2 separate regions of the Homo sapiens genome follow, and region 2 is linked to region 1. The links come from fine-mapping of genetic effects on gene expression. Tissue or cell type: whole blood. Region 1 holds a variant in brackets; the other region holds the start of a gene. All regions are shown on one strand. Distances are from middle to middle.

Region 1 (2,916 bases):
AGATTAGGCATTGCATGTATGTATTTATTCCTTAGAGCAACCTATGAAATAGACATTATTAGCATCACCCCTTTATCTGAAAGGTAAAATTTAACTGAAAATTTTATGGTCTAAGTCCATAGCCTTTCTCACCATATGCTATCCCCTCCCTACTCACCACCACCTTGTAAGTTTTCTTACCTTAGAATAAGAATGCTTGTTCTGAAGATTTGGGAGGTAGAAAGTGAATCTACATACATGGCAGGAGAAGATAGCTGTTCCATCTGCACTTGGGCTCTTCCTTTTGTTCATTTCCCAGAGCATTTTACACTGTATCATTCAGGAGATGCCCAGGAAAATATCTGGGTCTGTGGTTAAATGAGTTTAGGGAAAAATACCTCATATCTTCATTACTGATTTATGGTAGATTTTTATATTAAAGGCAGAGAAGTCCTGCAGAAGAGAAATGTGTTTTGGCTGTTTTGAACTTAGCATTTCCTGAAATTATTTCACCACAGAATCTTCTCCTTTCCTCCCATCCCCAGTTGATTTGGTTCCTACAGAGCAACATACTGATTCCTTGCTTGGTAAGAGTGGTTGAAGTCAGGTTTCAGGCTCTCTTCTACCAGTAGCTCAAATTCATCAGTGTTAGGGGTCATCTGACTGACTCTTCACCCGATTACAGACTGAGGCCTACTGACATGGAGTCTGTTTTCCCTTTGGGATTGTTTCAAGAGTCTTCTCTCCAGTCGTCAGGACCTGGGGAACAGAACAGATGACTCCACGTGGGAACTTTATCCAGATTCTCTGACTGACTGAAACAGCTAGATAGTTCATTCTTTCTTGACTTTAATGCTGACTTCAAAATAGAAAAGGATATTGCACATATACAGTATCCTTCTACTTGGCAGTTTGTGCAAACTGGTGGAATACCTTTTCCTAAGAGTAGACCAGGCTGGGTGTGTTGGCTTATGCCTGTAATCCCAGCACTCTGGGAGGCTGAGGCAGGTGGATCACTTGAGATCAGGAGTTCAAGACCAGCATAGGCAACATGGTGAAACACCATCTCCACCAAAAACAAAAAATTAGCCGGGAGTGGTGGCATGTGCCTGTAGTCCCCAGGTACTCAGGAGGCCGAGGCAGGAGAATCGCTTGAACCCATGAGAAAGAGGTTGCAGTGAGCCAAGATCATGCCACTGCACTCCAGCCTGGGCAAGAGAGTGAGGCTCCATCTCAAAAAAATAAAAAATAAAAGTAGACCAGATGCACGAGTAGGAGCTTTGTGTGAGTTCTGAGCATGTAGAGCGAGTAGAGGGCAGATGTCCATCTAGGCTCTTGGCAAGCCTGGTTCCCAGCAGGGAGTGGTAAGAGTTCAGAAATGATGTCAGGGCAGTAAGAGACTGT[A/G]TTTGTACCATCATGCCTTACCTATTCAGACATCCTTCTCTTTCCTTTTCAGTCAGTGGTGCCGAAGACCAAAACGGTATGTAGTTGTTTCTGTTTGGGAATGGGCTTAGGCCCTTTTGTCCTTCCCCTCCTTCAACCCCAATCCCTTTAGTAATCTAAGAATTCTGAGCATTTGAGCCCCCAGAGAGAGGGTGTGTGGGAAACTCACTGAGACCCAGGGGGCCTCTCACCATCTTTAGAAATTCTCTCTGCTCGCTGTGCAGGAAGCAGAGTGGAGCATACGTAGGGGCGGACTGACTGATGTGCATGTCCCTGGGCTACCTGAGCTCATAAGCCAACATTTGTAAAACACTGAAACAGAGGAGGGGTGGCATGTATCACACTCAGCTCATTTTTTAAAATCTTGGTGTTTTCAGTTCTGGTCTGGGTAGGGAGGGTCTCTGTGTACACCTTCTGGGGAATCAGGGTGTTTAGCAGCTTCTGGTACTAACCAAAAAGAAAGGGTGGTGACCTGAGACAGCCCTGTTTGTACAGGGCTGGTAATGGTTAGAGCTACTCTGGAGCTAACACATGTGCTACTCTCTGGGCACAAGCTATATATCTCAGCTCAGCTGCCACTCACTTAAAGACCACCACTGGGCCCTCAGGTACTCCCAGAACACACTGCAGAACTCCTGACCATCTGTGGGGACATTCTAAAATATGCTATGTGTTTTCAAAAGCCTCAAGGGTATATGGTTGTGAACTCCCTTCCAAGAGAGAACGTTCTAAGAGTAGTGTTGGACTAGCCTGCAGCATTTTAAAACTTATTTCAGAAGATTTCCCAAATTTATTTAGTAAAATGGCCTTTTGCTCAGAATGGGCAATTTTATGTCTGATTACTTCTAATCAGACATAAAAAACAGTTGAGCTTTTCTCAATTCCCCAAAACCATTTGGAGTTCTAGACCCACCTCCACCCTCCAACCCCCCAGCATCACCGGTACCAAGATCAGGCTGATCTACTTGGTGCTTCCTTTCTTTTTCTGATTCCCTGGGAGAATGCTGACAACTGAGTTAATGTGTTTGTTGTTACTTCTGAGAGAATGAGTAACTGAAAATTATAAATTATTCCCATTCATCTTAGGTATTTGTATAGTCTCCAAACCTCTGTTAGGACCAACAGCACCTCAAAAGAGGCAAATGGGTTTCACTCCCTTTCACACCCAGCCTACCTCCTAGGGGGAAGTATTTCTTGACTTTTTAATAGTCCAGAAAAGAGAAAGTATAGATGCAATAAGGGAGAATTCCTCTATGGGTTGGCCAACCCCCAGATGGTAGAGGTGACTTCTGTGAGATCAGTTCCTTTTTATGGGTACCTACTTCAGGCTACAATTTAAGACATATTGGAGATGGCTGGGCTTTTGAACATTATTTTTTCTGTTTGGGTCAGCTCTACTAGGATACTGGTCATGCCCACTATATTCTGCTAGTGACACAAGCCAGTTAGCATTTATTGAGAACCCTGTGCACTCAGCAGTTGATACTGTCTGGA
Region 2 (2,916 bases), 49 kb before region 1:
AACATTTTATAATACCTTATCAAAGCTCAGCGTGGCTATCCTACTGGAATAATGTAATTAAGGAGAATTAAGTGAGTTGGATAAATAACTTTTTAAAACTAGCCCCTTGAATAGAAAATTAAGTAGTATAGTTTTTAAACTCAAATTCTGTCTGCACGTACATTTTAATTAACCTAACATTATTGAATGACAAGCTGAGTTGGCAGCTACATCCAGAGTTCATGCCATGTGAGACCTACCTTAAAGGATGAACGAAGCTGGGTGCAGAGGCCTCAAATGCCCTGCTAAGAAATAGCTGATGGCCTTGGGGAACTGTCATACATTTTAAGCAGGAAACAGAAGGATCTAATAGGAACTTTAGTTTCTCTCTTGTCAAATTAAAGCACACAAAAAGCAAGGACTTGATCTTTTTTTTTTTTTTTTGTATAACACCAATGTCAATTCTAGCCTGTCAGGGCAAATTCAGTAATTAATAGCTGTTGATGAGCCAGTCATTCTAGATTGATTTTTTAAATAAGCAGGCTAATAAATGAGAATTGACATAAATTTAGGGATGTCTCTTTTCAGAGCAAGTGTTAAGGTGATTTTCATAGTCTTCTGTATTCCCTATGCATCCAGTAGGTGTGATGGTAAATGATTTGGCTTTAGCATAGAGAATGTGGCAGCTGATTAAAAAAAAAAAATTCCAGTGCATCTATCTTAATGAGAGAACTTGAGTTGTCTGAAGAAATAGAGAGGTCAGAGGAGGCCTAGTGGGAAAAAAGAACAATGAGCCTGGTTAGAACTGACAAAAATTCACCCTAATGATTTGACTGGCTAATGATGACTGGGCAAGTTCCCTGAGTCCACTGACCCAGATGTTCTAATTTGTAAATGCAAAGTGACTTATTTATCAGCCTCCTGGGGAAATCTTCAGAGCTGTGAACCTGCTATGTTCAGTAATCTTGCTGGCCCCAGCCCCAGCCTGTTCTCAGATGAAATTTTAGAAACTGGCCACTGGAACTTTTTGGGTAAGGGCTCTGGAGGTGGCCAAGTTACCAGTAGTGGGGGAATGAGGTTTACCTGCCCCCAGTAATCAGCACTTGATTTAAAACAATCAGTGAGCTGCCTCTTCTTTCCTAGGTTGCAGTTGACTGCGGTTGGTTCAGGCTGAGTTGTTTGGGAAGTACAAATTTTGCCCAGCGTGAGTCAGCACTGCCCTGGGTAAACTCCCTGCTGTGTTGCAATCTTGCTTACCAAAGATACATCCCCAGGCGGCACCATTCACTTCACATGAAAGCCGCTGCTCTTGGTTCCTGAGATGATCTCATCTGAACATGGCTCCAGCGACCTCAGCCACAGGAACTAGAGACAGCTTGCTTTCTGTCGTGGCAATGTTTTGAAACTGGCAAAATCAGGTAACCTCAAACTGTTTTCTTAAGTTTCATTAGCTAGATGAAGCTGCATTAGAAACTGGGAAAATCCTGTCTTCAGAAGTGAGTCAGGTTTTTTTTTTTTTTTTTTTTTTTTTTTTTTTTGAGACGGAGTTTCACTCTTGTTGCCCAAGCTGGAGTGCAATGGTGTGATCTCGGCTCACTGCAACCTTCACCTCCCGGGTTCAAGTGATTCTCCTGCCTCAGCCTCCCAAGTAGCTGGGATTATAGATGTGCGCCACCATGCCCGGCTAATTTTGTATTTTTAGTAGAGACAGGGTTTTGCTGTGTTGGTCAGTCTGGTTTCGAACTCCCAAGCTCAGGTGATCCACCCTCCTCAGCCTCCCAAAGTGCTGGAATTATAGGCATGAGCCACGGCCCCCGGCCAGAAGTTTTCTTTCATTTGAGTTCTGGATGTGGAGTTAGGTCCAATTAAATCACTGATTATATAAATCTTAGAAAAGTAAAACGTTAGGTTTACAGCTTTATCCGTCATTTGCTCTTGTATTTTGTTTTTTTGTGTGTATCTTGTGAGAAACACTTTAGTCAAACTAAGCCATTGTTAAAGGAAAAGAAGTGAAGGCATTTGGTTGCCTTCCTAATAACTAAATATTGAGTTGTGGAGAACACTGTCTTATCAGTGAGTTTGTTCCCATATTCCTTTCTGAATTAATAGGAAGAACCTCCCTCATCTCTAATTCTACTAGGCTACTACTCTATCTCCCTCCTGCTTTTCATCGCCAAACTTTTGAGTCCTTCACCTAATCAGACTATGATATCTCTAGGTAGTCGTCACCCTCCAAATTACGTTTCTGCTCCTTATAATTCCAACAAATTGCCCACGTTCTCTTTCACCTCAGACCTTAGCATATGTAAGCGTTCTTTTACACACCTTCCCCAAGCTTAATCTGGCCAACTGGTTTCAGCCTAGAAGTCACCTCTTCCATGAAGCCTCTTCTTACTTACCAGGGTTGAGTACTCAGGAGAACCTGGTATTTACTCCAATCATAGTATGTATTGAGAATCAGGGTCTGCTTTGCTAGAATTGTATCCATGGTACGTTGCACATAGTAGGTTCTCAGTAAGGGTAGAATGAGCAAGAGCCTGTACTGTACTTTCTCAACTCTGATCCTCTCATCAACTCTTTTTTTTTTCTTCTGAGAGGAATCTTGCTCTGTCACCCAGGCTGCAGTGCAGTGGTGTGATCTTAGCTCACTGCAACCTCTGCCTTCCTGGTTCAAGCGATTCTCCTGCCTTAGCCTCCTGAGTTGCTGGGACTACAGGTACGTGCCACCACGCCCAGCTAATTTTTGTATTTTTAGTAGAGACAGTGTTTCACCATGTTGGCGAGGATGGTCTCGATCTCTTGACCTCATGGTCCACCTGCCTTGGCCTCCCAAAGTGCTGGGTTTACAGGTGTGAGCCACCGCGCCCGGCCTTGTTCATTCTTTTTATGCTCACATCTTTAAATGTGCTAAACCCTGTTGATTTTGTTGGAGTACTG

Evidence for each region. PIP is the estimated chance that this variant, and not a neighbour inherited with it, causes the effect.
Region 2: RFFL starts here. The variant in region 1 is fine-mapped to the expression of RFFL in whole blood (INTERVAL, PIP above 0.99).

What each region holds. Positions count from the first base shown.
Region 1 is chr17:35,013,283-35,016,198 of GRCh38, reverse strand. It overlaps RFFL (ring finger and FYVE like domain containing E3 ubiquitin protein ligase), which reads left to right. Exons shown (of 7, transcript NM_001017368.2): 6 at 1,436-1,459. All of the region lies in intron 6 of RAD51L3-RFFL (RAD51L3-RFFL readthrough), which reads left to right. Among named protein-coding and RNA genes, the nearest start is that of LIG3, 34 kb to the right of the region's middle. The variant A/G (reference allele first, on the strand shown) is at 1,384.
Region 2 is chr17:35,062,057-35,064,972 of GRCh38, reverse strand. It overlaps RFFL (ring finger and FYVE like domain containing E3 ubiquitin protein ligase), which reads left to right and starts at 1,266. Exons shown (of 7, transcript NM_001017368.2): 1 at 1,266-1,397. The region is part of intron 5 of RAD51L3-RFFL (RAD51L3-RFFL readthrough); the gene reads left to right. RefSeq lists enhancers at 1,085-1,184, 634-1,429, 516-1,715 and a silencer at 1,425-1,494.